Linked DNA regions of Homo sapiens. The protein of the gene in region 7 purifies or fractionates together with the protein of the main gene of each other region. This does not show direct contact. Each region holds a gene or a part of one and is shown on either strand. Other genes may lie near its edges.

Region 1 (4,218 bases), on a different chromosome or scaffold from region 7:
ACATGCATGGTGAAATCAAGCTTACACATCCACAACTGGTTTATCGATGTAACTTAAATTCAAGACCATCAGGATTACTTACTGATATGATTATCTGCTTCACAAGCTTAGTATCATCAATACAATCAAATGCCGCCAGTAAAACCAAATGGGAGTATTGGCCCTGCAAGAATTGGAAGCCAGCAAAGGTTAAAAACAAGTGCATAGATCTTCCCTCTTATTTCACACATGGAATATCTTCATAAAGGTAGAGCGAGACTCCGCTCAAAAAAAAAAAAAAAAAAAGATTACCTACATTGACAACTTGTCTAACATAACAAGATGAATAAAAGCCATTTTAATGAACTTCCTCTCTTATCACGACCTCATTAATTATATTCTAGAGGTAAGGTTGATTTTTTTTTAAAGCACATTATTCATTACCAAATAGTCTAAAACTAATACCTATTTACATAGGTTACTGTTAATGAATAGCTACTTGAAAATTATACTTAAAAGTTCAAGTTATAAGATTAACTTCAAAAAACCTACATATATAAACACATATATGATACTCCAATCATGAAAAAGAAAATATAAACTCATACAATTTTACACACATACACACACACACACGATATACATAATACATGTACACAGAAAATCCTGGAAGGCAAGGCATTGTAATAGTCATCTCTGGGTTATACAAATGATTTTTAATTTTCTTTTCTATATTGCTCAATTTCTTTAAAGTGATCTCACAAAATTAGAATATAAATATGAAAAAATAAACTAGAAGAGTATAATTATACACTGAATGAGAATGATATAAAAATCATTACTTTAAAAAAAGTATAGCTGCATGAGATCACAGAAATACACATGTGGCTTTCACAACACTCATCTTTTGAAATAAAATTATTTCCATGATGCTAATACTGTTCCAAACATTTAAAGAACACCTACTTTATGTTAAGAACAAAAACAAAAGAAAACAAAAACCTGTTTCCAGAGCTTGTGGCATGAGTATCCTGGATGTTGATATAATTGTTTCAAACTCTGATAGGAATTTGATTTTTGATAATAGCCCACAATCATTCAGAGCCAGATCTGATAAATATCACAGATAATACAATTTCAATTAGAAACAATAACGAAGTTGCTAACTGTAAAGTCAAAAAGACAAACTGAAGACAAACAACAAAGGTCTTACTATACAAAGACCAACAACCAACTAAAAATGGGCAAAGCCAGGTGCGGTAGCTCACGCCTGTAATCCCAGCACTTTGGAAAGCTGAGGCTGGTGGATCACGAGGTCAGGAGATCGAGACCATCCTGGCTAACAGGGTGAAACCCCATCTCTACTACTAATACAAAACATTAGCTGGGCATGGTGGTGGGCGCCTGTAGTCCCAGCTACTCAGGAGGCTGAGGCAGGAGAATGGCGTGAACCTGGGAGGCGGAGCTTGCAGTGAGCCCAGATCGCGCCACGGCACTCCAGCCTGGGCGACAGAGCAAGACTCTGTCTCAAAAAAAAAAAAAAAAAAAGAACATGAAGAGTCAGATCACACTAAAACAGAAGTACAAATGTCTTTAAATGTATGAAATAATGCTTTATGAACTAATTAAGGACAATAATTAAAACAATGAAATGCCATTTATCCTATGGGTGATGGTGAAAACCTCTGACAATAGACTAATTTATCAAAGGTTTAGGGAAAAGCAGGCACGCTTTTATGTTGATGAGAATGTAAAGTGGTTCAACTTCTTTGAAGAGCAATTGACAACACCTATACAAATTTAAAATGCAGGTATGAGCTGATCCAGTGATTCTAGTTCTAGGGATTTATCTTGCAGACGTGTTTCCATGTAAGTACAAAGACTTACATATGAATATATTCACTGGGGTACTAATTGTAATTTTAAAAACTCTAGAAACTACCAAAATGCCCAACAGTGGGGACTGGTTAAATAAATTATGGTATAGGCACACGATGAAATATTACAGTCACTAAGAAAAGTGAGGTAGACAGATGTATGTATATTGAAATAAAATGACCCATAATATGAATTAAGTGAAGGAGACAAAATATAGAACAACGTGCCTAGTACAAAATCACTGGTTTCAGTTCTCTTAACTCGGACACACATAAGCATAACCAAGCATAAAATATTTCTAGGTGAATACAACAGAAGGTGGTACAGAATTGAATGTAAGTGAGAAACAGACAAATCCACAAGTATAGTTGGAAATTTTAACATGTTTCTCTCAGCAACTGATAGAACTAGAAAATAATAAGTCAGTAAAAACACTGATGGTATGAACACTGTCAACTACTTTGATCTAATTGACAAATATAGAATACCCCACCAAACAACTCTACAATATATTATTTTCAAAATACTTAGACCATATGTTAGGCCATAAAACAGGTCTCAGTAAATTTAAAAGGAACAAAAGAATATAGAATATATCCAGAAACCCCCAATATTTGGAAATTAATAATTCCAAATAATCCATGGATCAAATCCATGGGTAACGTTAGCTTATCACCCCTTTAGAAGTAACTCTTCGAGATTTAAAAAGATATGTACTTAGTGTTAAATTACCTGACATAAACAAACTGTAGAACTAAAACAATATAATTTTATTATTTTAAAATGTTATACTCTTAATACCTTTGTGAATTTTCTATTAACATTCTAGTTTTTACTCATTTTAATGTAAGGTATTCAAATTAGAATGTCACGCAAAAAAATTTACTTAATATTGAATTATGAATTATAATTATGAATTATATTTATATTTATAACATAATAATATAATGTTATATAATATATAACATTATAATTCATATTATAATTATGAATTATGAAATATATATGAATATTGAATTATGAATTATAAAAAATATGAGAATTCCATATTTCACTTTATTATAGGAACGTTAGCTGCCTTCTGAATTCTTCTAATTTCTAGCCCAACAGAAGACAATAGTCAAGTACACAATCACACAGCATTAATTTTAACTTGTTTGATTTAGTATTTCAAACAAGTTGAAGTATTCCCCAGATGCTAGTAGTTCTCACTGGATGTTTTCAAAGGATAAAGTAGTTGATTACTACATAATTTTAGTTCATCAATAAATTAGAAATTTGTTATCCATCAAATATATAAAGTATAACTCAAAAATTAAAATTGTATTCACTACATATATTCTAGTTACAGTACACCATAGCAACAGCATGAAAAATTATTTAATAACTAAAAACATATAAACACTATTTTTGAAGCAACAAATCCCCCAGAAAAAACTTTTGTACCTATGAATTTCATTAGGAAAATTGTTACTGCATTTCTAAAGAGCTATAAAATTTAACAACTAAAAATTTCCATAACCACACTGCAAATTTATTCTTAAAAAAAAGATACATTTTAATTTCTTTTATGGTTTTGGTCATAAGGAAAACTACTATCAAGTTTCTGAAGTGCAATCTGGCATCATTTACCCAGAGACTAAAATATGTACATACTGTATCCAGGCAGTAATTCCCATATTTAATTAACATGACTGGACAAATTCACCAAAAAAGCTAGTAAATATCAGGTTTTCAAAGAATATCTAATAAAAGTAGAGAACTATCACAATACAATGTTAAATTAAAAAAGGAGAAAAGAATGCATGTGACATGATTTCCATTTTGTGTAGATAAAATATGAAAATACATGTAGATGCAAAGAAAAATATAATAAAACAATAATTTTCTGCTTGGTAATTTTCTGAATTTTTCCAAATTTTCTATAATAGACATGAATTCATCTTACTATCAAAAATAATTAGAATATGTAGTTTTATTATACTTACATTAGCCACCTTTTCAACATAAGTCTTCATTGTTTTCACAATCACTTTCCTGTCCTTAAAAAGGAAAGATTGTCTCACTGAATTTTCAGTTATGTATTAAGGGTATTTTGTAGTTAAACATTTTAATATAATATTTATTAAGTTTTCATTTGAGTGGCATATGTTTTCATTAGTAAAAATAATAGTTATACAGCCAGAACAAAAAAACTGTAATATACCAAAGAAGTTGGCTTAGAGCTATTACAAGCTTAGATGTGTATGTGATAGGGTTAGGGTTAGGGTTAGGGTTAGGGTTAGGGTTTGCAAGCCACCTTTCACAGTGAGACCAGACAGATCCTTCTTCCAAGGTCTAAACTGTCCTCAAATGCAGAGT
Region 2 (4,218 bases), on a different chromosome or scaffold from region 7:
ACCTTTTATTCTGGAAAACATGCGAAACTCGAATAGTATGGAGAACCCCATGTGTTAGTCACTCACTTAGCTTTGACAATTATTAACTCATAGCCAAGGTCGGTTTTGTTTCATGTTGTATCCCCCCACACAAACTAGATTATTTTGAAACAAATCTTAAACATTGTGTCACAACATTAGCGATTTTGACTTTTACCAGATTGCCCCAGATTAAGGTCACAAAATTTACTTTTAGTAGAATAATAGTTCTCATTTTTGTTTGTTGGGCTTCCCTTCTCTGTTTATACATGATTTCTGTACAGCAGAAAAGAAGAAGAAAATTAACTCTTGATCCAATGCCTTCAGCTCCTCAAAATCAAAATACAACCTTGCTGCTTTATTGTGTACAAAAGCAAAAATTCTTGAGCTATTAATGACTATAATTGAAAAGCGAACAAATACAGATTTCCCCAGTCCTGTTTTGGCAGAGACCTGCCTTTTAACCCACTTTAATAGAGATAACTTTGTGTCAAAGTTAAACTACAGTTAATAATTCATAATGAAAACTTAAAATGTTTCTTTACAGTAGTTGTGTAAAGATACTGCTGTTACCTTAGGTTAAGAATTAAGCAAAAGATAATCTTCTAACATAGAATTGTTTTCCAAAGTGCCCCCGTCTGCCCTATTTCCAAATAACAAATTTAGCAAATATGAATGAAACCTTAATTTTTGTGAATAGTATGAAATCACAGCATAAGTGTTCACGTTTTTCTTTCTTGTGTCTAAAGGATCTCTCTTACAATGGAAGTTGACAGGAATATTATAAATATTATAAATGTCTTTGTTGCATAACTTTCAAATTTCTGGTCGTGAATAGTTTTCAGCTTTTAGGTCTGTTATTTGAGTTTTGTAGGTGTACTTTGAGCTTGATCAGGTACAGTGGAAATGTTACATGTTATGTTTTAGTTATGACTACCTGGAAGATGGGGAAAGATACACCTCTTAAAATTGATTTAGGAAAGAAACGCCAATTTAGTATCTGGGAAAGGACACAACACATTTTTAAAAATGTGTAGTGCTTCCCATTAAGCTTAACGTAAAACTTTTAAGCATTGAGAATTGTTACCATAAATATAGTTTCTTGAGAATAAGTTGCTCTCTTTTAGGTTTCAGCCAGAAAGTCCATGTATATACAGATTACAGCAGGTCCTTGAATAATGTTGTTTCAAGATAATGTTGAGAAAAAAAACTGTCTGTGGAGTTTACACGTTCTCCCTATCCCTGCATGGGTTTTCTCTGGGTACTCTTGATTTCCTCCCACATCCCAAAGCTGTGCACGTGAGGTTCACTGGTGTGTGGAGCTGTGTGTGTAAGTGTGAGTGCTTTCTGCAGTGGATGTCCTGTCCAGGACTGGTTCCGGCCTTGCACCCTAAGCTGCTGAGATAGGCTCCAGCCACCCCAACCCTGAACTGGAATAAGTGGTAAAAAAAAAAATTTTTTTTTTTGAGATGGAGTTTAGCTCTTGTCACCCAGGCTGCAGTGCAATGGTGCAGTCTCGGCTTACTGCAACCCCATGCCTGTAATCCCAGCACTTTTGGAGGCTGAGGTGGGCAGATCACCTGAGGTCAGGAGTTGGAGACCAGCCTGGCCAGCATGGCGAAACCCTGTCTCTACTAAAAATAAAAAAAATTAGCCGGGCTGGGTGGCGGGCACCTGTAATCCCAGCTACTCAGGAGGCTGAGGCAGGAGAGTTGCTTGAACCTGGGAAGCAGAGGTTGCAGTGAGCGGTTATCGTGCCATTGCACTCCAGCCGGGGCAACAAGAGCAAAAGTACTTCTCAAAAAAAAAAAAAAGGCATGTATACTTCACATTTATTTCAGTGTTTAATATTCGAAGTGTTTGGTCTTTATTTAAAAGTTTGGTGATATTTTTCTGATGAGAAATATGCCCTAGAACCTAACTCTTGTTTGTATCAATAAGCGTGTGTTAGTCGGAAGTCTCAGTTTCCAAGAACCTACCCCTTATGTTAAGAGAGGATTTACTGTATTTTAAGTTTAGAAATGGCCATGACTCATGGAACTCTCCTCCATCCCCATTCTAAAGTCCAGATCATTGATATCATTCTGGGTGTTATCAAAATGGATACTGCTTCATCCAGTCTCTCTCCCCAATACCACAAGGTAGTCTCAGTTTGTGGGGCAACTTTCTTTGAGCCTTTTTACTGGATTGAGTAAGAGTGTAATTCAGTATAAAGATGAAACTTTCATGAAAAGGGTATCTTTTTGTGGGATTCCACAAGTCAATCCCAGAGTTTGTCGCCCAGGCTGGTCTTGAACTCCTGAGCTCAAGTCATCTTCCCACCTCAGCCTCCTTAGTAGCTGGGATTATAGGCAGAGGCCTTGTTTTCATGAGCCTCTAAATTGGATCTTCTTATTTGATGTGATACCCAGTGACACAGAATTGTTCAATTTGAGGAAATATAAATTCCTCCCCTCTCAAATAAGAGCTTTGGAGTTGCTTTTCTCTCAGAATGGGATTTTAGAGCTTTCAAAAATGTTTAGAGAATTTTATGACAGATTTGTTTCACACTAGACCTATAACAGGTTATTTTACATTGACTTCTGGTGATGGAGACATTTGTGGTTGAAATGCTTCTCGTGTAATTTTCTACATGAGCTTTTCTTTAAATAAAACTTCACCAGAGTCAAGGCTGTATACCATTTGTGCTGTTCCAAAAAATATAAATTGCCAGTTATCAGTTGAACTATGAGAGGACATGTTAGTTGCTATGGTTATTTACCCCCACCATTTTATTATGAAAAATTTCAAACATATAACAAAGTTTATGAAGTTTTATTGTACATCTCTTTAGATACCATCTACTTTCTATTTTTGCCTCCCTGTTTCATGGTGCTGAACACCGTCTACTATTTTTTTTTTTTTTTTTGAGACGGAGTCTGGCTCTGTTACCCAGGCTGGAGTGCAGTGGTGTGATCTCGGCTCACTGCAAGCTCCACCTCCTGGGTTCATGCCATTCTCCTGCCTCAGCCTCTCGAGTAGCTGGGACTACAGGTGCCCGCCACCATGCCTGGCTAATTTTTTTGTGTTTTTAGTAGAGATGGGGTTTCACCGTGTTAGCTAGAATGGTCTCGATCTCCTGACCTTGTGATCCGCCCACCTCGGCCTCCCGAAGTGCTGGGATTACAGGCGTGAGCCACTGTGCCCGGCATACCTTCTGCTCTTTGTCATGAACATTTTACCATACAGTATTATGAAGCTTGAATAATGTTGGCCAAATCCATTGTTCTCACCTGCTAAGGAGATAATAGGATTATAAATATATAGCTGTGTTGATCTTATCAAATGCCACGGGATGGATGGGCTTGGATATCTGTCTTGTTGACAGCTTAATGCTCTGAACTAGAAAACCTTACTGCAGAGAAAAGTAATATTTTTAAAGTGGTAAAATGGGAATTACTGCAAATAGCTTAATTTGTTTTTTAAGTGTTTACATTCCCATACTGGTGAATAAGGTTGATGTAACAGTGATTTATGTCACCAGATAAATGGAAGTAGAGAAAAATTTCTGCAGGCTGTTAATTGCTGTATATTTTCTGGGATTACATATGTTTATTTGTTAAAGAAGTAGACTCAGGGAACTCCCTCAAAGTATATTTACTGGAAGCAAAAGTGGAAAAATCTATTTGAGAAAGTGTTTGCTTTCGATTAAAAATTAGTCTTCTGAATATCAAATCTGTAACCCATCTGGCATCTGTTTAATCTGGAATCTAATTTGGGAAAGAAGTGTGATGACTATGTGGGTTTATAACAGTAATGGAAGCAAAACTGGCCATTTTATTATGATAGAAATTTTGTGTCATGTCTCCCAGACAATAAAGGCTAAGAAAATCTATTTAAATACATTGGGGTCTTTTCCCCTGAATGAACATGATTGCTGAGGGTTAAACCTTCATTAGATTGCCTCTGCTTTTTTTTTTTTTTTTTTTTTTTTTTTTTTTGTTGAGATAGTCTTGCTCTGTTGCCCAGGCTGGAATGCAGAGGTATCATCTCGGCTCACTGCAACCTCCACCTCCTGGGTTCAAGCAATTCTCCTGCCTTAGCCTCCCGAGTAGCTGAGACTACAATTGAGCACCACCACGCCCGGCTAATTTTTTGTATTTTTAGCAGAGATGGGGTTTTGCCATGTTGCCTAGGCTGGTCTCGAACTCCTGAGCTCAG
Region 3 (4,218 bases), on a different chromosome or scaffold from region 7:
TGGCTCACTGCAGCCTCGACCTCCCAGGCTCAAGGGATCCTCCCATGTCAGCCTCCTGAGTAGCTGGGAATATAGGCATGCGCCACCATGCCCAGCTAATTTTTTTTTTTTTTTGAGACGGAGTCTCACTCTGTTGCCCAGGCTGGAGTTCAGTGGCATGATGTCGGCTCACTGCAAGCTCCGCCTCCTGGGTTCACGCCATTCTCTTGCCTCAGCCTCTCGAGTAGCTGGGACTACAGGCGCCCGCCACCACGCCCGGCTAATTTTTTTGTATTTTTAATAGAGACGGGGTTTCACTGTGTTAGCCAGGATGGTCTCGATCTCCTGACCTCATGATCCGCCCGCCTTGGCCTCCCAAAGTGCTTGGGATTACAGGCCTGAGCCACTGCGCCCGGCCCCAGCTAATTTTTTATTTTTGTAGAGATGGGATCTCGCCTAGGGTGTTCTTGAACTCCTCCTGCCTTGGCCTCTCAAAGTGCTGGGATTACAGGTGTGAGCCTCTGCAGCCAGCCTGGGCTGCTGTCATTTATTTCAGCATGAGTTTGTAAGAACATGACCAAGACAGATTCCAGATTTCAAGGTTATTGTTGTTTAGGATGAAGTCACGTGATAAGTGTGAGTGGGCTGAGTTAGAGTGAGGCAAGCCCTGGGACACTGCAGAAGTTGTGGGGACAAGGATGGCTGCGGTTGGAACTCCAGGGAGTGAAGGCCCCCTCTGACCCAGTCCTGCCCTCTACCCTTCCAGGCTTTTTGAAATGGGTTTCGCAGAGCAGCTGCAGGAGATCATCGCCCGCCTCCCCGGGGGCCACCAGACGGTGCTGTTCTCCGCCACGCTGCCCAAACTGCTGGTGGAATTTGCCCGGGCTGGTGCGTGAGCTGGGGGTGGAGATGGGGGCTGGGGGTCAGGCTGGGGCCTGGGGGCCAGTCCCTCTGCGACTCCCCCACTTTCCCCCATGTCTCCTGCAGGCCTCACGGAGCCCGTGCTCATCCGGCTTGACGTGGATACCAAGCTCAACGAGCAGCTGAAGGTGAGGCTGCACCTGTCCCATCCCAGGAGGTTGTGTCCAGGTGGGCCCTGCAGGCCCTGGGCCAGGACCCCGTAAGCCAACACGTGATGCCCTCTCCCCACAGACCTCCTTCTTCCTCGTGCGGGAGGACACCAAGGCTGCCGTGCTGCTCCACCTGCTGCACAACGTGGTGCGGCCCCAGGACCAGACCGTGGTGTTTGTGGCCACGAAGCACCACGCCGAGTACCTCACTGAGGTGAGCAGGGTCCTGAGTGGGAGGAGCACCTCCTTCAGCTGGAGTTTGGAGCTGCAGTTCCCTGTGCAGTCACTAGAGGGCAGCACGAGAGCGGACCAGGAGCCTGGGCCTGGGCTCAAGATGGTCATTTTTATTTTTATTTTTTATTTTTTTGAGACGGAGCCTCGCTCTGCCATCCAGGCTAGAGTGCAGTGGCACAATCGTGGCTCACTGCAGCCTTGACCTTCCAGGCTCAAACAATTCTCCCGCCTCAGCCTCCCGAGTACTTGGGACTTCTGGCGCATGTCACCATGCCCAACTAACTTGTTACTTATTTTTATATTTTGTAAAGACAGGTTCTCACTCGGTTGCCCAAGCTGGTCTTGAACTCCTGGGCTCAGGTGATCCTCCCACCTTGGCCTCCCATAGTACTGGGATTATAGTACTGGGATTATGAAAACATTTCTTTTTTTTTTTTTTTGGAAATGGTATCTCACTCTGTCGCCCAGGCTGGAGTGCAGTGGCACGATCTCAGCTCACTGCAACCTCCACCTCCCAGGTTCAAGTGATTCTCCTGCCTCATCCTCCTGAGTAGCTGAGACTTCAGGCGCCACCATGCCTGTCTAATTTTTGTATTTCTCATGGAGACGGGGTTTTGCCGTGTTGGCCAGGTGGGTCTTGAACTCCTGACCTCAAATGATCTGCCCGTCTCAGCCTCCTAAAGTGCTGGGATTACAGGTGTAAGCCACAGCGCCTGGCCTAAACTTTTTATTGTGAGAAAATTTCAAACCAATTCTAAGATCAGAAAATAATATGATGAACCCCGGGTACTCGTTATCTAGGTACAACTGTTACCAGCTGATAGCTGGTCTTGACCTTCATCCGTTAGTTCCCCTTACATCCGGGTTATTTTGAAGCCTGTCCCTGCCATCCTGTTATTTTCCTGTAGATTTTTAGTATGTGGTTTGTTTGACTTCTTAAGATTGAGGCATGACCTGCATGTAGCAAGCTGTGTGAAGCGCTGTTAGCATGTGTGAGTGGCTCAAAGATTTTTTTCATATGTGTTATGCCTGTGTGACCCCCGCCTGGGTCAAAGCCTGGGGAGTCGCTGTGCCCCAGAAGGCAGTGGGGCCCCTTTCCGTTGGTGCCTGCCTCCCTGTCAGCTACACCTGGGTCTGTTATCTGAGGACATGGTTCACTGGGTTTCACTTACTCCACACACAGTTAACAACACTCCCTCTGTGCAGCTGCTGGGGTCACCAGTGAATAAGACCAAAATAGTAATTTTTAAACAGTTGTTTTTTTAGAGAGAGTTTTGCTCCTTTGGCCAGGCTGGAGTGCAATGGCATGATCATGGCTTACTGCAACCTCTGCCTCCTGGGCTCAAGTGATCCACCCACCTCAGCCTCCGAAGTACCTGGGACTGTAGGCACAAGTCATGCCTGACCATGCCAGCTCATTTTTTATTTATTTTAATTTTTTTTGTAGAGATGGTGTCTTGCTGTGTTACCCAGGCTAGTCTCGAGTTTCTGGTCTCAAGTGATTTTCCAGCCTTGGTTTCCCGAAATGCTGGATTACAGGCGTGAGCCACCATGCCCAGTTTAAATAGTAATCTGTAAAGAACAGCTAGCACTCTCATGAGTGTTCCATGTTGAGACTCTGTTCTCAGCACTGTATATACTGACTCATGTGATCCTCATAATAAGGCACAAAGAAGGGGCAGTTATTCGTACAGATGAGGAAAATGAGGCATAGAAAAGTTTGGTAACTTGCCCAAGGTCACACAGCTTGTTTGTAGCAGAATCCGGATAAGGCTTGTGCACTGAGGTGGCATTTGCAGCTTCCCTGAGAGGGCCCTCTGCACACATCATCTCTGATCCTCAGACAACCCTGCAGAGAGGTGGGAGGTGTTGTAAGCTCCATTCCTCCCCAAACTGGCATCACCCAGCAAGCTGGGATTCAGACCAAGGGTGCCAGACTCCAGAACCCGTGGTCTTGTCTCTGCACCTCAGTGCCCGTCCCCCGCCATGGTCTGGCTTCCTTTCCTTTCTCCTCCAAGTCTCCTTCTCACTTTGCTACCATCTTTGCTCTGAGCAGCTGCTGACGACCCAGCGGGTGAGCTGCGCCCACATCTACAGTGCCCTAGACCCGACAGCCCGCAAGATCAATCTCGCCAAATTCACGCTTGGCAAGTGCTCCACTCTCATTGTGACTGACCTGGCCGCCCGAGGCCTGGACATCCCGCTGCTGGACAATGTCATCAACTACAGCTTCCCCGCCAAGGGCAAACTCTTCCTGCACCGCGTGGGTAAGCAGCCCGTGGCTGGCCCTGGGGCAGGCAGGGGTGCCGGATCCTGGCAGAAGCCGAGGGTACAAGGCTTAACTCTTGACACTGCACATGGGGTGGCTGTGGGCCTTGTTTTAGAGACAGAGCCTCGCTATATTGCTTAAGCTGGTCTCAAACTCGCGATCGTGCCACTGCGATCCAGCCTGGGTGACGGAGCAAGATCTTGTCTCAAAAAAACCAAAAAAAAAAAACAACCCAATTATTCAGCTTATGGTTTTTTTGACTTTACAATAGCACCCATACAGCTGTTCTATTTTTTTCTTTCAGTACAGTATTCAATAAGTTACATGAGATACTCAACACTTTATTTTAAAATCGGCTATGTGTGGGATGATTTTGCCCAAGGGTAGGCTAATGGAAGTATTTGGAGCATGCTCAAGGCAGGCTGGCTGAGCTGCGATGTTTAGTGGGTTAGGTGCCGTGCGTGTGTTTTTGACGGCTATTGGGTTTATTGAGACGCAGCCCTTCGTAAGTCACGGAACAGCTGTGGTCTCATTTCAGAGATCACTGTCCCCCATTGCTCTCTGATGACATGGCCGTCATTTTGGTGTGTGTCCATTCTTCTGATGTTTCTATTTTAAGTTGTGGTAAAGTAGACATAGCATGCAATTCAGCATTTTGCCATTTCC
Region 4 (4,218 bases), on a different chromosome or scaffold from region 7:
TGCTTTGCTTTAAATAACAATCTGTGTTCTCCCTTAATAAAGGCAGGGGAAATGGAAGGTGATGCAGTCGAAGCCATTGTGGAGGAGTCCGAAACTTTTATTAAAGGAAAGGAGAGAAAGACTTACCAGAGACGCCGGGAAGGGGGCCAGGAAGAAGATGCCTGCCACTTACCCCAGAACCAGACGGATGGGGGTGAGGTGGTCCAGGATGTCAACAGCAGTGTACAGATGGTGATGATGGAACAGCTGGACCCCACCCTTCTTCAGATGAAGACTGAAGTAATGGAGGGCACAGTGGCTCCAGAAGCAGAGGCTGCTGTGGACGATACCCAGATTATAACTTTACAGGTTGTAAATATGGAGGAACAGCCCATAAACATAGGAGAACTTCAGCTTGTTCAAGTACCTGTTCCTGTGACTGTACCTGTTGCTACCACTTCAGTAGAAGAACTTCAGGGGGCTTATGAAAATGAAGTGTCTAAAGAGGGCCTTGCGGAAAGTGAACCCATGATATGCCACACCCTACCTTTGCCTGAAGGGTTTCAGGTGGTTAAAGTGGGGGCCAATGGAGAGGTGGAGACACTAGAACAAGGGGAACTTCCACCCCAGGAAGATCCTAGTTGGCAAAAAGACCCAGACTATCAGCCACCAGCCAAAAAAACAAAGAAAACCAAAAAGAGCAAACTGCGTTATACAGAGGAGGGCAAAGATGTAGATGTGTCTGTCTACGATTTTGAGGAAGAACAGCAGGAGGGTCTGCTATCAGAGGTTAATGCAGAGAAAGTGGTTGGTAATATGAAGCCTCCAAAGCCAACAAAAATTAAAAAGAAAGGTAAAACGAGTTTATCCATAGTGGTTTCATAAAACCATTTTGGGATAAGCATACAACACAGTGCATATGCAAGTTGTTTTATATTAACCGTATTTGTAAAAGGTCGTTATGTGGGTACCGTTCTTTAAAACCAGTCTAAAATAAGTTTTTTCCAGATTGAATGCTCTTTTTTTAATCCCAAAGAAGAAGGAAATGTATTAGTGACATGAGATAATTATGACTTATATTGGGTTTTGTTATTAAAAGCTAATCAAATATATTTGTAGAAATTTAAGATTAGGATTAATCTTAACACTTTGAAACTCTGCAGCAAGTAAGTGTTTTATTTTGCACATAGGTGTAAAGAAGACATTCCAGTGTGAGCTTTGCAGTTACACGTGTCCACGGCGTTCAAATTTGGATCGTCACATGAAAAGCCACACTGATGAGAGACCACACAAGTGCCATCTCTGTGGCAGGGCATTCAGAACAGTCACCCTCCTGAGGAATCACCTTAACACACACACAGGTGCTGGATAAGAATGTTGGGGGCTACAACAGCAAATGCTCAGACTTCGCTTTTTAGTATTCATTCAAGCTGACTCCAGCGGGAATTTAAAGGAAGTTTTTATTATTTCTTATGATGCCCTTTTTGTAATCATGATTTTATTGTAAGCACTTGGACTTAGTTATTATAGACAAATGTAAAGAAAATTTAATGAAAAATAACACCCTCTCTCTTAAAAAAAAGAAGTCTCAGGCAATAGATGCCTGGTACTATGAGGAAGAATGTTAGAAATAGAAGTGAAATCCCAGTGAAACCCTGTCTCTACTAAAAATACAAAAAATTAGCTGGGTGTGGTGGTGGGCGCCTGTAGTCCCAGCTACTCGGGAGGCTGAGGCAGGAGAATGGCGTGAACCCGGGAGGTGGAGCTTGCAGTTAGCCGAGATCCCACCACTGCACTCCAGCCTGGGCGACAGTGCGAGTCTCCGTCTAAAAAAAAAGAAAAGAAAAGAAATAGAAGTGAAATCCTACCTTTATTTAAAAAAAAAAAAGTGGCCGGGTACAGTGGCTCACGCCTGTAATCCTAACACTCTGGGAGGCTGAGGTGGGCAGATCACTTGAGATTAGAAGTTGGAGACCAGCCTGGCCAACGTGACAAAATCACATCCATCTGTACTAGAAATACATAAATTAGCCAGGTGTGGTGGCGGGTGCCTGTAATCCCAGCTACTCAGGAGGCTCAGGCAGGAGAATCGCTTGAAACCTGGGAGGCAGACACTGCAATGAGCTGAGATAGTGCTACTGCACTCCAGCCTGGGCGACAGAGTGAGACTCCATCTCAAAAACAAACCTTAACATTTTTTGTTTCTGGTTGTTTCACGTCAAGGAAGATAATTCATAATTTCAGAATGGAAAAGCTAAGGCACCATTCTGATAATTCAAACATTTATTTGAGCATCCTACTTACTTTAGTGTTCAGATATTCTGATATTAGCTTCATGTTGGCTGTGGCCAGGTTCCCTGAGGTCTCTAAAGTAGAGGGACTCTGTGCACTAAACCTCTCTTTAAGCTTTCCTGAGCTATTTGTTATCCCAGTGTAGGAAGTTGGTTGCAAGTCTTCTCACATGGTTTTTCATGCAGAATAACTTCATTTCATATGACAACTCTTGTTTTTGATTTTTAGGTTTTTAAAAATTTCTAATGACAACCCTTGTTTTAGATTTGTTGTGCTGGTTGTCAGATGACCATGATCAAGTGGGTGTTAATCATAAACAGTATGCTGCACATGGGCACATTCTTCACTAATGTGACTTACTTTTAAACATCTCCCTAATTTCTACTCAGACACTTGATAATATGTTTTATTTGATACTTTGAAGACACTAGGATGGGGCATATGACTAAATAAAAGTAACTGGGTAATCCCAGCACTTTGGAAATCCAATGGGGGGTAGATGACCTGAGGCCAGGAGTTCTAGACCAGCCCGGCCAACATGGCAAAACCGCCTCTGTACTGAAAATACAAAAAATCAGCTGGGTGTAGTGGCACACGCCTGTAAACCCAGCTACTTGGGTGGCTGAGGCAGGAGAATCACTTGAATGCGGGAGACAGAGGTTGCAGTAAGCCAAGATTGTGCCACCGTACTCCAACCTAAGTGACAGAGCAAGACTCTGCCTCACCAAAATAAATAAATAAATAAATAAATGGCCCCATAACAGGACTTCCCAAGATGGGTGTGCCTTGGTGTGGGCATTCTCTATCTGGTCTTCAGCTTTGAAAGTAAGAGGTACAGTCTATCTGGTTACTCAGCAGATTTGGCAAGACTGATTCATACCAACAAAACCCATAAGAGCAGATGCATACACCAAGAGTATCAGTTTATGGTGAGGAGTATACCTTTTCATGTTCCAGATGCAGTTGCATTGCATTCTAGGGGGCGCCTTTGCCTCTGTTACGATGCTGTAGCAGCCGGGCGCCGTAGCTCTCGCCTGTAATCCCATCACTTTGGGAGGCCGAGGTGGGTGGATCACCTGAGGTCAGGAGTTCAAGACCAGCCTGGCTAACATGACGAAACCTCGTCTCTACTAAAAATATAAAAATTAGCCGGGCGTGGTGACGCATGCCTGTAGTCCCAGCTACTCGGAAGGCTGAGGCAGGAGAATTGCTTAAATCCAGGAAGCAGAAATTGCAGTGAGTGGAGATCGCACCATTGCACTCCAGCCTGGGCGACAGAGTGAGACTCCATCTCAAAAAAAAAAAAAAAAAAAAAAGATGTTGTAGCAATTGAAAGCTAACTTGGTGAGGATGAGCCTTGATGGCTGGGCATGGTGGCTCACACCTGTAATCCCTGCACCTAGGGAGGCTGAGGCGGGTGGATCACTTGAGGTCAGGGGTTTGAGACCAGTCTGGCCAACATGATGAAACCTCATCTCCACTAAAAATACAAAAATTAGCCAGGTGGCCGGGTGTGGTGGCTTACGCCTGTAATCCCAGCACTTTGGCACTTTGGGAGGCTGACGCGGGCAGATCACCTGAGGTCAGGAGTTCAAGACTAGCCTGACCAACATGGGGAAATCCTGTCTCTATTAAAAATACAAAATTAGCCGGGTGTGGTGGCACATGCCTGTAATCCCAACTACTCGGGAGGCTGAGGCAGGAGAATCACTTAAACCCAGGAGGCGGAGGTTGCGGTGAGCTGAGATCGTGCCATTGCACTCCAGCCTGGGCAACAAGAGCAAAACTCGGTCTCAAGAAAAAGCCAGGCATGGTGGCCCATGCCTGTAATCCCAGCACTTCGGGAGGCTGAAGCAGGCGGATCACAAGGGCAGGAGATCGAGACCATCCTGGCCAACATGGTGAAACCCCGTCTCTACTGAAAATAGAAAAAAAAAATGTTAGCCA
Region 5 (4,218 bases), on a different chromosome or scaffold from region 7:
GGCTGGCTAACGGCACGTGCTGCCCGAGGGGACTCCGACAGAGCCCAGACATCCCCAGGCTCACGGGGAACTTTGTACTCAGGCTCCTTTGACCTAAAGGGCCCACACTTCCTGAGTGCCCACTGTGTACCAGACACTGAGGCACACGGAGGCTAAGCCACTTGCTCAAGGTCACAGCAATTAAGAGGTAGAGCTGGGACTTAAGTCCCATCTGACTCTAGAACCGAAGCTCTAAACCTTTCTCTAAGCCTCAGTCTGCGCACCTATAGAATAGACACGATACCACCCATTAAACTGCCCTGAATCAAAATGAGATGATGTACAAGGAGCGGAGACCAGAAACTAGGATTAATCCTGAGATTTTAAAGGTGACAGGTTTTCCAGAGCATCTGGGAAATCCCATCTTCTCTCTATGGGGCCAACAGTACCCTCCTCAGTGAGCCAGAAAGCTCACTCTCATGGCTCTGCCCCTTCCCACTCCATGAAACGCCCGCCAACGGGGAAAGGCACAGACGGGAAGGGCTGCGGGGAACTTGTATGGGGTTTCACCAGAATCCAACCACCTCTGCTCTCCCCTCCCCTTCGTGGGACAGAAAAAATACCCCCATCCCTGCTCCTGATGAAGATGTCCCTAGGGAAGGAATGATGGCTAGAAAAGGTCTGAGAAAGGGACAGTTGTCCATCCTACCCCCGTTCAGGGCCTGTCTGCTGAGTAAGATGCCAGTGCTGAGTGGGTGGGAACCAGCAGAAGACCTGCACCCCGTGCCGGCTCACACCCCCACTCCAAGGCAGGCTCACCTGCTTGGTGAAGTCCTTGATGATGCTGTGCTCAGACACCTGGGAGCCAATGGCAAAGCGGCGCTTGAGCTGCTTCTCGATGCGGCTCAGCATCTCCTGGTCCTCCTGGCTGGTGAAGCCCTCCACCCCTGTGGGCATGGAGAAGTGAGGCAGCCGGGGAGCTGGGACAATGGGAGTTCTTGGACAGAGACAGCCTCTAGCCCAAGGAAGAACAGCCTGAGCCAGGCCCCGAAGAGTAAGTCAGAAAAGGGCACCGAGTGTGCCAGGGTGGTGCAGGCCTGATTGAGGAGACAGGATATGGCACATGTGGGGACACTCCAGGCCAAGCACAAAGTCACAGAGGCAGGAACACACCTGTCTCATTCAAAAAGCAGCCCGGGGCCCAGCGCAGCAGAGACATGGCCAGAGTGTCACTAGGGACCAAGTCCTGCGGGCCCTTGGAGGCCACAGCAGGACTCCTTTTGTTGCTGGAGCAGATAGATTAGAGAGAGAGTTGGAAGGGGCCCATCAGTGACCCAGGAGGGAAGCCAGCCTGCCCTGGACACATCTACGAGGTGCCCTGAGGAGCCCTCGGCAACCAGGAGGCTCGTGACTTCCAATTACTGCCACAGAGGCCTTGGTGTTTCAGCTAAGGAGATGGTGGGCTCATGGTCAAGAAGTCATTGAGAGGGGAGTCTGTGAGGCAAACTCCTACATAGCCCATAAGACCCAACTCAAATTATCACCACTCCATATCACCCCTGCCCTCTGTGCCTGCAGCATCCCAGAGGCCTCCACCTGCAATGTCTCATGTGACAGCAAGTGTCTCCAGGGTAGAGGCTGAGTCTTCACCAAGGGGGACAGGAGGAACAGGCCCCACCCACCCCATTCCTCACCCAAGTGCCTCCCCATTCAAATGCACCAAACCTGCTCCCTCCTGGGGAAACTGACACTTAGCGCTGCCTCCACCTGAGCAGCTCTTCCCCCAAGGAGCCACACTGTCCCCTTCATGCAGCTCCCTGCTTGGCATCACCTCCTTGCAGAGGCCATGCCCACTCACTCCATGGGAAAGAGCACGTCCTCCTTTTCCAACACACCTGGCCCTGCCATCATCTCCCTCACTGCCTTTTTCACTACCTACACTACCTGCATTTGTTTCTCTACTGTCTATCTCTCCCCAACTAGAACGAGAATGAGAACCCAGGAGGGCCGGGACCCTGTGATTGATTGCTCTTATACTCCCAGCACCTAGAACAGTGCCTGGCAAACAGTAACACTAATGAAGTATCTGCTGGGTGAAGGAACAGATTTTCCCCAGCGTAGGTAGCCTGGCTCATGATCGGTGCCTGGGACAGTCTGTTGAAAGGCTGACCGAAACCAGACAGTATGGCTTATGGTGTGGAAAACGCTGGCCTAGGGGCCAGGAGACTTGCATTCCAGCCAAGCGACTGTGATCTTGGGCACCAGGGAAAGGCCCCTTCGAGTGTCAGCTGTCTCATTTCTAACATGGGCAGGACTGACTGCTCACCTGGCTTCCAGGGGGCAGCTGTAAGGCAAAATGCAAGAAATAACTCTGGAAGCACTGAAAATGCTGACAAGCTCTAGGAAGCAGAGCATCAACTGTTGTTCCTAGCCAGTGAGAAGGGTTATCATCAATGACCTGGGTCAAGAGGATTGTGTTCAAGGGTCTGGAGAGAAGCTGCTTCTTCCCATCTTGGAGGAAACAGCGGTGGGGAGAAAGGAGGAGAGGGGTCTTATGGCAAAAAGAAACTCAGAGAAGCTCAGCAAACTCAGAGAAGCAAGACACACACTGCAGGCCCCCAGCAGGCCAGAGCCCTGCCCACAGAGCTCCGAGCCAGGGAACCCAGATCAATTGAGACCATGGCCCCTGCATCTGCTCACCTGACAGGGTACCGGACAAGGCAGCATCCAACGTGGACACTTGGAAGAGCCGCAGGGCCTCCTCCACATCTGCCTCTGTGGCGAAGGGCTGCAGCTTCATCTTGCTGAGGGCTTCCGCGATGCGCACAATGGCCTCCAGCTGCCTGTGGGGGCAACAGCGTGCTCAGGGTAGCCTCGGTCCGCTATTCCCTTCCTCCCCAGCCAGCCCGTTACCAGGGAGGTGCTTGCCCAAAGTGGTAAGACTGTGGTGGAGACTGCTAGGTGTCCCCATAATCCATCTCCCTTTTGATCTTAGTCATAGAACTGCAATTTTTTTTTTTTTTTTTTTTTTTTGAGACAAAGTCTCGCTCTGTGGACCAGGCTGGAATGTAGTGGCATGATCATAGCTCACTGCAGCCTCGAACTCCTGGGCTCCAGTGATCCTTCCACCTCAGCCACCTGAGGAGCTGGGTCTACAGGCATGCACCACAATGCCTGGCTAATTTTTTATTTTTTGTAGAAATGGGAGTCTTGCTATGTTGCCCAGGCTGGTCTCAAACTCCTGGCCTCAAGTAATCCTCCTGCCTCAGCCTCCCAAAGTGCTAGGATCACAATGTAGGCCACTGCACCTAGCTTGGAACCCCAGTTTTTAGTCTGGCACACAGCGATCCACTAAAACACATCCCAGACATCTTTTGTACCAGGTTGTATTTGTGTGACCAATCTATGGCAGTAAGTTGTAAGTCCAAGCATTGTGTGGGACTTCATGAAGTGTCCTTTAAAAGGGAAGCTCTCTTTCCTTCCTGTCCTGCTGCCTGGAGGTGATGGCTGAAGTTCTAGCGGCCATCTCGGACTAAGAGTAAGGGGGAGCTTGAGGAGTCCTCACACCAGTCCCCATACCATCTTCCTCCAGACAGTGCTACAGAAAAGAGAAATGAACTTCCTATTTCTTTAAGCTACTTTATCTGGATTTACCATTACTTATAGCCAAATCCATTTCCAACCAGTCAGTGCTGGAGACAGGATTCAAACCAGGTAAATCCCAACTCTTACCCACTGTATTGTCTACAAAGTCACAAGAATGAACAGAGTTAGGAGCTAAAAGCACTGAGGGCCAGAGAAGGAATGTAATTTCCCTACAGTCACACAGTGGGCTAGAGGCTGGGACCCAAGACTCTTGACTCCCAGGCCTGGGTCCTTCCCTCCCTTCGGGCTTCCTACAATGGGAGAAGCCAGGCCAAATTCAGACAAGAGGGGTCTAGGTTTGCCCGGCCTTAAATCAAGAAACATGGATCATCATTGAGATCAAGGAGGCCATAGTTTATGCTCCAAAGGGACTCTTCCTGCCCAGAGCTACTATGGGCCTGTGCCAAGTGAAAAGCCTGGACCACTGCCCCTGGTTGCCAAGCACACCCTGCTGTGTAAAGCAAGCCCCATCTGCCATGGCCCAGCCCTGCCCGCCTGCTCACCGCACAGTGATGGGGATGCTGGAGCGGCGGTCACTGTCCCTCTCGTGCTGACGGGCCCCGCTCCGCATGATGATGTAGCGGTTCTTCAGTT
Region 6 (3,751 bases), on a different chromosome or scaffold from region 7:
CTTCAGATGGTCCATTTTCACCCAGGCTTTTCAACACCCAATTGCTGAGGACTGCATCTCTCCACCTCTCCATCCCAATCCCCTGGGTCTAACTAGGTCTAGAAGAACCTCCAACTTTCCCAAGGGAAAGGGGCCCCAGGGCACTTCCAACACCCACCACCACTCACATCCTTGTTTTCACTTGGGACTTTACTTGGATCCTGGCACTGCTCTCGGGTGAGGTTGACCACTGTGCCAGTCAAATTTGCCAAGGCATACTGTACAACATAAGTGGTGTTGGTGGGGCTGGAGACAGCGATGTAATGTTGAAGAGGCCCGTCACCTGAGTGCAGACCAAAGGGAAGGGAAGATTTGGTGGGTGGATGGTGGGTGAAATAGGAAAAGCCCAAGATTGGCAGCAGCCAGAAAGAAGGGCAATGGAAAAGGATCCATCAAATATGAGAAGAAAGAAAGGAAAACAGGGGGTAAGAAAAACAGAGAGGAAAAAGAAAAAAAATAATAAAGGTTAAACCAAAAGACTTTTTCTCTATCCCTTTCCTCAGCTAAGGGTCCCATTCCCACACCAGATGCTTACCCAAGTAGGACCTTAGGTCCTGCCTGAGGATAGACTGGAACCATGAGTTGTTGGCTTTAATCAGGAACCCATAGAGCAGGCGGGTAACCTAGGATTGGAACAGTAAAGAGAGAAAACCCTGTGACTTGAAGGGAGCCCAGGGAAAGAATTATCAGTGGAGACCCAGTCATGGGGCAGGAACCAGACTGGCCAGATAGACTGGAGTTGGGAGACAGTAGCTGGCTCATAAGATGCAGATGAGGCCCACCCAAGAGCTCTCTGGGGCATGAGGCATTCTCACCGGCATCAACAGTCATGTGGAATTCCAAGGTTTGGGACACTAGGGCAAGGGAGGATAGGGACAGCTTGCTGTGTAAATAGAAAGAAGGAGCTAGGGCCCATCTGCTTACCGTTTGGGGATCAGCCTGAACTGTGTCGCTGAAGTTGGTTCCTCCTGCAAGCTCATACAGAGCACGTCCCAGCACCGTGGCCACATCTGCCAGGGCCTGTGGTAGGTGAGGAGGGGGCTGAATGGCCCACCTCTCCTATCCTCAAATGCTAGCATCTTCACTGTGTGCCCCAGGCTCCCACCCAGCCTGGCTCAGTGCTACCTTGGCAGTGTCTGTTACAAAGTTCAGGTCCTCTTCAGGGCTCAGCCATTCGGGATAGCTCACATTAATGTTCTCAGCAGTGTCGTAAATACTCTGGTAATATCTGCCAGGAAAGCCGGCATGAGCCTTGGCTACATTTAGCCAGGGCTCTGCCCCTTTCCTCCCTCAAATGCTCCTTATGCAGGGACTCAGTATCTCATTTTCAGCATCAGAAGAAAGGGGTGAGAGACAATCAGGATCCCATATTGCAGAAGGTGTGGAGAACAGGGAGGTAGGAGTGAGGGTGAGGTGGTTAGTGAAAATTAAAGACTTTCCTGACAGACAAGGTAGAAAAGCTGAATGAGCTCAGATCTTTAAACAAAGGAGAGACTCTTCTACATCATTTGGGCTGGAGATATGGGGGATGGCTAAGATGATTTTCAGAGAACTCTGCCATGTATCATGAGATCAGTTGTATAACTGTTCCAATGAACATTTATATTTAGGGTAGCTGGGAGCAGGAGGTGATTAGCAGGTCTTAGGATCAGGTCTGCTCACTGATATATAAGAATACACTGATAAAATCACCATGATGATCCTTATGGAGCCCCAAGGAGATAGATCTTAAAAGAGAGGCTGAGCTCCACAGTCTTTACCATCAGTAAATCCCTGTCCCACACAAAGTCAAGTCAGCTACATAATCAAATCCAAAATGTGTTCAAATGATGAATCTTCACTTGCCCCAAAGTGGTACAAGGATAGCTTTAGAGAAGACAGCTGACCCTAAGTGCTAGGACGGTCACTCCCCTAAATGAATGAGAAGGTGCTACTTGGCTGGGGTCAGAAATAGAGCTCAAGCATTTTCACTACGAAACTCATTTGGCCCTCGGGAAGCTTGGCAATCCAGCCTGAGTAAGAAGTCCCCTGTTATCCAAGGCCTCAAGTTAGGAGCAGTTAAAGGGTAACCCAGAGTTACCCTTTGTATCTCTGGAGCCCCATCAGCTATAGGAGGCACTTTTACCCTCGCACTGAACCATGGCCATCTACCACATGGCAAGAACATGGTACATTTCACAGAGTATGAATACTGTTTCTGGCACCTCTGGGTGAGTTCCAGAGAAGGACTGCTTTCTGTCTTCTAGCCAAAGGGCCCCCACCATCCTTCCCATGCTTGTGTTTGAGATGATGCCCTCTGCTGGCAACCCTGAGGAACTCAGGACCCTGGAGAGCTAGGGAGCAGTGGAACCATAACCAAGGATTGTTGACAGTAAAGGGCTAAGGGTGAGGATGAGTTTCTAAGATGAATATCCAGTCAAACAAATAAGGGTTTCAGTTCAGATGTGAAAACGCCACTGAGCAAAGAATACAGATGGACCTGAAGTTCTGGAGGGGGTAGTGTGGGAAAGCGGAGGGCAGTGACCTTCCTCCCAGACTGCAGAATAGACTCTCTTCAAGAATGAAGAGGGTGCAGGGCCAAGTGATTCTTACTTGTTATGGAAGGCACCAGAGTGGTCAGCCAGAACAACGCCAGAGATGTTTCGAGCTCGAAGAAATCGCTGCAGGGAAGATGGTGGGAGAGGCTGGGACTGATTTGGCCTCCTGAGGATGACAGCAGGGACACCAGCACCACTCTTCTCCAATGTGGCCAGGAGATCCTCCACCTGGGGGGTACGAGGGAGATTAACTGATGGGAGGCTGGGGGATGGGAAGCAGGAGGTCTCTTTTAGGCCTGAAATGCTCTATACTTCAAGTTCCCTGCTTGGGGAGCTACCCTATCTCTAGTAGACCTTTATCCCTCAAGCCTTTTGGGACCAAGGCTCTCTGAATTTCCTGTAGCTTCCACCATTCTTTTTAGAGTTAGAAAATTGGGGCATAAAGAAGAGACCTTTTTTTTCATATTTATAAGTAAATTCTACTGTCTTCAAGACTCTGCTTTATCCTCAGTGGATGCTTCACTTATTATTTATTGTGCAGAATTGAAGGGAGCAAATAATAATAGAAAACTGCGTGCTGAATGCCAAACAGATAACCAATTCTTTAAATGCTACAGGAGTCCAGAGCAGGGATGATGCTGAAGGCTGGAATTGCAGAAAGAGGACCACCTGGAAAAAAGCAGGCCTAAAGGTGGACCTAGAGGGAAGGGAAGGTTTTGAACAAGCAATGAGGAAAGTGGAGGACAAGTTGGGCAGCGAGTGTGACACAGCCAGGACTTGGGTAGAGCAGCCTTGACAATTGGATCCATGGGGCAGCAAGGCAAGAAGGGAGCTAGTCACTCACCTATCCTTAATGGGCAGTGGTAGTCTGCTAGGCAACAAATGATCAGAGAACTACCCAGTCCAGGGAACCAATGGAATGTCACTGAGTTCCTGATTCTTCCCAGCAGCAACAACAGCTGTGGTGTTCATCCTTTGGCCAACACCCAATCCAATCCTGTCTCTTACCCTGTCTCACAGGCCCTGGGGGTTGGTGGAAACAGGGCAGGGGTTGGGGTCTGGATTCTGAGCTGTAGGAATAGGAAATGAGGGGAGATGCTCAGGTTACCTGGTTCCGTACAGACTCATTTTTCTGAGAAACAGGATCTGTGTGCATCCAAAGCTCTAATGAAGTT
Region 7 (4,208 bases):
GGAGATCTTGCTGGCCCTGTTGGCCCAGCCCAGCCACCTCATGCGCCAGGTGGCCCGGAGCGTGTTTGGCCACATCTGCTCCCACCTGACCCCGCGTGCCCTGCAGCTAATTCTGGATGTGAGTTGGGACCTTTGGGAGTGGAATGTGGGCTGGGGCTCACTGAGCAGCGAGCTGCACCAGGGGTGCCGCTTCAGCCTCCAGCCTCCCTGCCGGGAGCCTGCGGCCGGTGGGAGGGGTCTCAACGAGGCCTTGGCCTGGCCTGGCCGCCTCTCCTAGGCTCCGTTTTCTTCTGGGAAATGGAGGTCTTTGGTCAAGGCTGAGTGGGGCCTGGAGAGGAGGGCGGGGGCTGCAAATGGGTCAGTGGCTGGCACCCCTCCCCAGGTGCTGAACCCCGAGACCAGTGAGGATGAGAATGACCGTGTGGTGGTGACGGACGATTCTGATGAGCGGCGGCTGAAGGGTGCAGAGGTGTTGCCAGCATGGGCCGGGCGGGGGCGGTGGGGAGTGGGACGATCGGGGAGGTGTGTGACGCGCCTGCCTCTACCACACAGGACAAGAGCGAGGAAGGTGAGGACAACAGAAGCTCAGAGAGTGAAGAGGAGAGCGAGGGGGAGGAGAGCGAGGAGGAGGAGCGCGACGGGGACGTGGATCAGGGCTTCCGGGAACAGCTGATGACCGTGCTGCAGGCTGGGAAGGCGCTGGTGAGTGGGGGAGGTGGAGGGGGGGGCGGCCGGGGAGGGCTCGGGTGTCCCCATGTTGTGTGCCTGCCCGAGGCCTGGCTGACCGCTGGGCCTCTGTCCCTCAGGGTGGAGAGGACAGTGAGAACGAGGAGGAGCTGGGGGATGAGGCCATGATGGCCCTGGACCAGAGCCTCGCCAGCCTCTTTGCCGAGCAGAAGCTGCGTATCCAGGCCCGGCGAGACGAGAAGAACAAGCTGCAGAAGGAGAAGGCTCTGCGGCGCGACTTCCAGATCCGGGTGAGCCTGGGGGCGGGCCGCACCCACCCCCGCCTCCCTGTGCGCCCACCCCCGCCTCCCTGTGCGCCCACCCCCGTGTTGCTGACCTGCCCTCCTGGCTGCAGGTGCTGGACCTGGTGGAGGTGCTAGTGACCAAGCAGCCCGAGAATGCCCTGGTCCTGGAGCTGCTGGAGCCGCTGCTGAGCATCATCCGGCGCAGCCTGCGCAGCAGCAGCTCCAAACAGGAGCAGGACCTTCTGCACAAGACGGCGCGCATCTTCACGTGAGCACGGGGGTGCAGGGCGGGCAGGTGTGGCCGGCAGCCCCCAGGCGCAGGAGAGCCAGAGCTCTAGGCTTGCTGTCTGCACAGGAAGGAGAGAGCCAAGCTTCCAGCCTGGGCCCCTAGCTCGCAGGCTCACTGCTCAGCCCTAGAGGCACACGTCACTTAGTGATTCCCACAGTCCTTGCTTCATCCCCGCGTTCTCCCGACACAGTGCCAACAGTGCCCTGGAGCTGGGGTCCATCCCTGCCCTTGACAGTCTCAAGTGGGGCTGTGCCAACAGTGCCCTGGAGCTGGGGTCCATCCCTGCCCTTGACAGTCTCAAGTGGGGCTGTGCTGGGGTGGAGGGGGACAGTGGGTGCACCTGTGGCAGGGGACACCCAACCCAGTCCTCGGAGGTGTAGTGTGCATGGGAGTTTGTCAGGCTGGGAGGCCTTGGGCAGGGCAGAAAGGGAGGAAGAGCATCCTGACGGGAGCTGGTCAGACACGCAGCTGGAAGGTCAGGCAAGCAGCGAGGCCACAGACCCCCGCACCCTCGCAGGCCCTGACCCTAGCGGTGCTGGAGGCCACAGAGGCATTATCAGCAAGAGCAGTGGCGTGGGGAAGGGTCTGAGTCTGGTTTGCCTTTTCAGAAACGGCTGGCAGCGTGGAGAAGGGTTTGGGAGGGGCTGTGCTGGAGGCAGAGGGCCCAGGAGGGAGGCGGTGGCAGGCGTGGGAGAGACAGGCAGGCACCTGGTAGACCTGCCTTCAGAGCTCAGGTGCTGGGGAGGTGAAGGCCTGGGAGCTGGGGCGCTGCGTGGATAGTCAGGAGGGGTGGGGAGTGTGACTGGCAGTGCATTCTTCACAAACCCAGGCCCGCCCGGGCCACGCCTTCTCAGATAGTTCTGCCAGCGTGCGTGGACAGTGTCGTTTGTTGAGCATCCTGCCTCTTGCCCCCATTATATCCCCGGCCCTGCAGGGCCACAGAGGGTTCTAAGCACATGAACCCTTGTCTCGCTTTACAAAAGGCCTGAAGGCCACTGCCCCATGAGAGACAAGTGTAGACAGGAGGGGTGCCCCAGGCAGGCAGTTGGCCCTTGGTGCAGCCTCCACTCAGGGAGCTGTTCTGTTCTCCCCTGGAGCGCCCCTGTCACCCCAGCACTCTGAGCCCACACAGCTTCCAGGCAGCCTGCAGGCGGCCCTGGGCCCTCCTCTGTGGCCTGGGTCGCCTCTGTCGTCTTCTAGGTCTGTTTCCCCACTTATAAAGTGGGACTTGGGTTGGCTCTGCTTGGCGGAGCAGGGTGGACCGAGAATGTTCTGACCAGCTCTCGTCCTCACCACCCACAGGCACCACCTGTGCCGTGCCCGGCGCTACTGCCACGACTTGGGTGAGCGCGCAGGGGCCCTGCACGCCCAGGTGGAGCGGTTGGTGCAGCAGGCTGGCCGCCAGCCCGACTCCCCCACCGCCCTCTACCACTTCAACGCCTCTCTCTACCTGCTCCGGGTCTTGAAGGGCAACACTGCTGAGGGCTGCGTGCATGAGACACAGGAGAAGCAGAAAGCTGGCACTGACCCCAGCCACATGCCCACGGGCCCGCAGGTGAGCAGGGCCTGGCCCAGGAGCAGCCCCAGGCATTTCACAGCCAGGGAGTGGAGGCCGGGACTTCCCCAGGGCCCAACCCTCAGCCTTCTGATGAAGGTAGGCCAGGCTCTGCTCCCATCCCAGGGACCCCTCTCCTGGCCTCACCCAGCTCGCTCTCCCCTGGCCTAGGCTGCCAGCTGCTTGGACTTGAACCTGGTGACCCGGGTGTACTCGACAGCACTGAGCTCCTTCCTGACCAAGCGCAACAGCCCCCTCACAGTTCCCATGTTCCTCAGCCTCTTCTCCCGGCACCCGGTGAGTGTTGGGGCCTGCCCTGCTTCCTCATGGTCCCTGCTCAGCCCAGCCTGCACCTCACAGCCCTTGTCACTCCCCACCAGGTGCTCTGTCAGAGCCTGCTCCCCATCCTGGTCCAGCATATCACGGGCCCGGTGCGGCCCCGTCATCAGGTGAGAGACTTCCCAGCTCCCAGCCCAGGGCCTGTCTGAATTAACCCGCTTAACCCTCTTCTGACTGGATATTGTGAGGCCCCAGAGCGCTGTCCTGGTGAGCACGGGCACAGCTGTCCCTGCCCCACTGGCTTGGCTGTGGGTACATGGTCTCTGAAGGGGGTGGCCGTGCCCTGGCCCCTGCCACACAGTGAACACACAGGAGCTGAGGGGGCAGGGCCAGCCTCACTCCCGCAGCCACTGCTGCCCATCTGGCCACACACAGGATGCCCCTGGTAGTGTCTGCTCTGGTGCCAGGGCTGTTGGGGGCAGGCTGGAGGAAGATGGCACTAAGCCAATAATGGGCAGGAATTGTCCCAACCTGAGGTCCCACCTCTATCCAGCTGGGAGGCCTTGGTGTCCCCACCTGCACACAAAGGCACAGGAGCAGGTAGTCACAGAGCCCAGAGCAGCAGGCAGCCTCACACGCTGCCCACAGCAGTGCCCAGCGGGCCCCCGAGCCCTCATGCATCCCTGAGCCGTGAGCACCCAACGTGCCAAGGCTCCTGCCACCCACCTTTGCCCACCCACAGGCCTGCCTGCTGCTCCAGAAGACCCTGTCCATGCGGGAGGTGAGGTCGTGCTTTGAGGACCCCGAGTGGAAGCAGCTGATGGGCCAGGTCCTAGCAAAGGTCACCGAGGTAACAGCCGGGGGGCGCCCTTTCCCCACCCCCTCAGAATCAGTTCTCCGGGAGACCGATCTCTGGGAAAGAAGTGAGGATTGGAGCCTGAGTCCAGAGTCGGGAGAACTGGGGTTGTCCCAGGAGACGGTCCCTGCCTCTGGGCTTTACTTCCGGCTGGGAAACAGAAAGGCTTTGAGCAGCTCTCCGGAGTGCCTCAGCCTGGCCACCCTTCCCTAGAACTTGCGCGTGCTGGGGGAGGCGCAGACCAAGGCGCAGCATCAG

What was found.
Region 1: the proteins of MYBBP1A (region 7) and PUM3 purify together in Homo sapiens (affinity purification with mass spectrometry; 2 studies listed by BioGRID and IntAct, with this or other methods). This does not show direct contact.
Region 2: the proteins of MYBBP1A (region 7) and STAU1 purify together in Homo sapiens (affinity purification with mass spectrometry; 2 studies listed by BioGRID and IntAct, with this or other methods). This does not show direct contact.
Region 3: the proteins of MYBBP1A (region 7) and DDX54 purify together in Homo sapiens (affinity purification with mass spectrometry; one large-scale study listed by BioGRID and IntAct). This does not show direct contact.
Region 4: the proteins of MYBBP1A (region 7) and CTCF purify together in Homo sapiens (affinity purification with mass spectrometry; 2 studies listed by BioGRID and IntAct, with this or other methods). This does not show direct contact.
Region 5: the proteins of MYBBP1A (region 7) and MCM5 fractionate together in Homo sapiens (co-fractionation; one large-scale study listed by BioGRID). This does not show direct contact.
Region 6: the proteins of MYBBP1A (region 7) and NCSTN fractionate together in Homo sapiens (co-fractionation; one large-scale study listed by BioGRID). This does not show direct contact.

The regions. Positions count from the first base shown.
Region 1 is NC_000009.12:2,819,936-2,824,153, forward strand, and holds part of PUM3 (pumilio homolog 3), read right to left. Parts: intron 3,900-4,218; coding exon 3,846-3,899; intron 164-3,845; coding exon 83-163; intron 1-82. UniProt on the Homo sapiens protein: Inhibits the poly(ADP-ribosyl)ation activity of PARP1 and the degradation of PARP1 by CASP3 following genotoxic stress. Binds to double-stranded RNA or DNA without sequence specificity. Involved in development of the eye and of primordial germ cells.
Region 2 is NC_000020.11:49,181,547-49,185,764, reverse strand, and holds part of STAU1 (double-stranded RNA-binding protein Staufen homolog 1), read left to right. Parts: intron 1-4,218. UniProt on the Homo sapiens protein: Binds double-stranded RNA (regardless of the sequence) and tubulin.
Region 3 is NC_000012.12:113,171,685-113,175,902, reverse strand, and holds part of DDX54 (ATP-dependent RNA helicase DDX54), read left to right. Parts: intron 1-745; coding exon 746-867; intron 868-966; coding exon 967-1,028; intron 1,029-1,131; coding exon 1,132-1,263; intron 1,264-3,339; coding exon 3,340-3,550; intron 3,551-4,218.
Region 4 is NC_000016.10:67,610,782-67,614,999, forward strand, and holds part of CTCF (transcriptional repressor CTCF), read left to right. Parts: intron 1-42; 5' UTR 43-51; coding exon 52-832; intron 833-1,169; coding exon 1,170-1,340; intron 1,341-4,218.
Region 5 is NC_000022.11:35,419,922-35,424,139, reverse strand, and holds part of MCM5 (DNA replication licensing factor MCM5), read right to left. Parts: coding exon 4,128-4,218; intron 2,823-4,127; coding exon 2,680-2,822; intron 927-2,679; coding exon 799-926; intron 1-798. UniProt on the Homo sapiens protein: Acts as a component of the MCM2-7 complex (MCM complex) which is the replicative helicase essential for 'once per cell cycle' DNA replication initiation and elongation in eukaryotic cells.
Region 6 is NC_000001.11:160,353,171-160,356,921, reverse strand, and holds part of NCSTN (nicastrin isoform 1 precursor), read right to left. Parts: coding exon 3,685-3,751; intron 3,600-3,684; coding exon of another isoform or gene 3,591-3,599; exon of another isoform or gene 2,828-3,590; intron 2,805-2,827; coding exon 2,632-2,804; intron 1,268-2,631; coding exon 1,165-1,267; intron 1,060-1,164; coding exon 964-1,059; intron 663-963; coding exon 575-662; intron 323-574; coding exon 168-322; intron 1-167. UniProt on the Homo sapiens protein: Essential subunit of the gamma-secretase complex, an endoprotease complex that catalyzes the intramembrane cleavage of integral membrane proteins such as Notch receptors and APP (amyloid-beta precursor protein).
Region 7 is NC_000017.11:4,541,520-4,545,727, reverse strand, and holds part of MYBBP1A (myb-binding protein 1A), read left to right. Parts: coding exon 1-118; intron 119-382; coding exon 383-469; intron 470-552; coding exon 553-702; intron 703-806; coding exon 807-977; intron 978-1,081; coding exon 1,082-1,239; intron 1,240-2,562; coding exon 2,563-2,815; intron 2,816-2,986; coding exon 2,987-3,112; intron 3,113-3,195; coding exon 3,196-3,264; intron 3,265-3,836; coding exon 3,837-3,944; intron 3,945-4,163; coding exon 4,164-4,208. UniProt on the Homo sapiens protein: May activate or repress transcription via interactions with sequence specific DNA-binding proteins. Repression may be mediated at least in part by histone deacetylase activity (HDAC activity).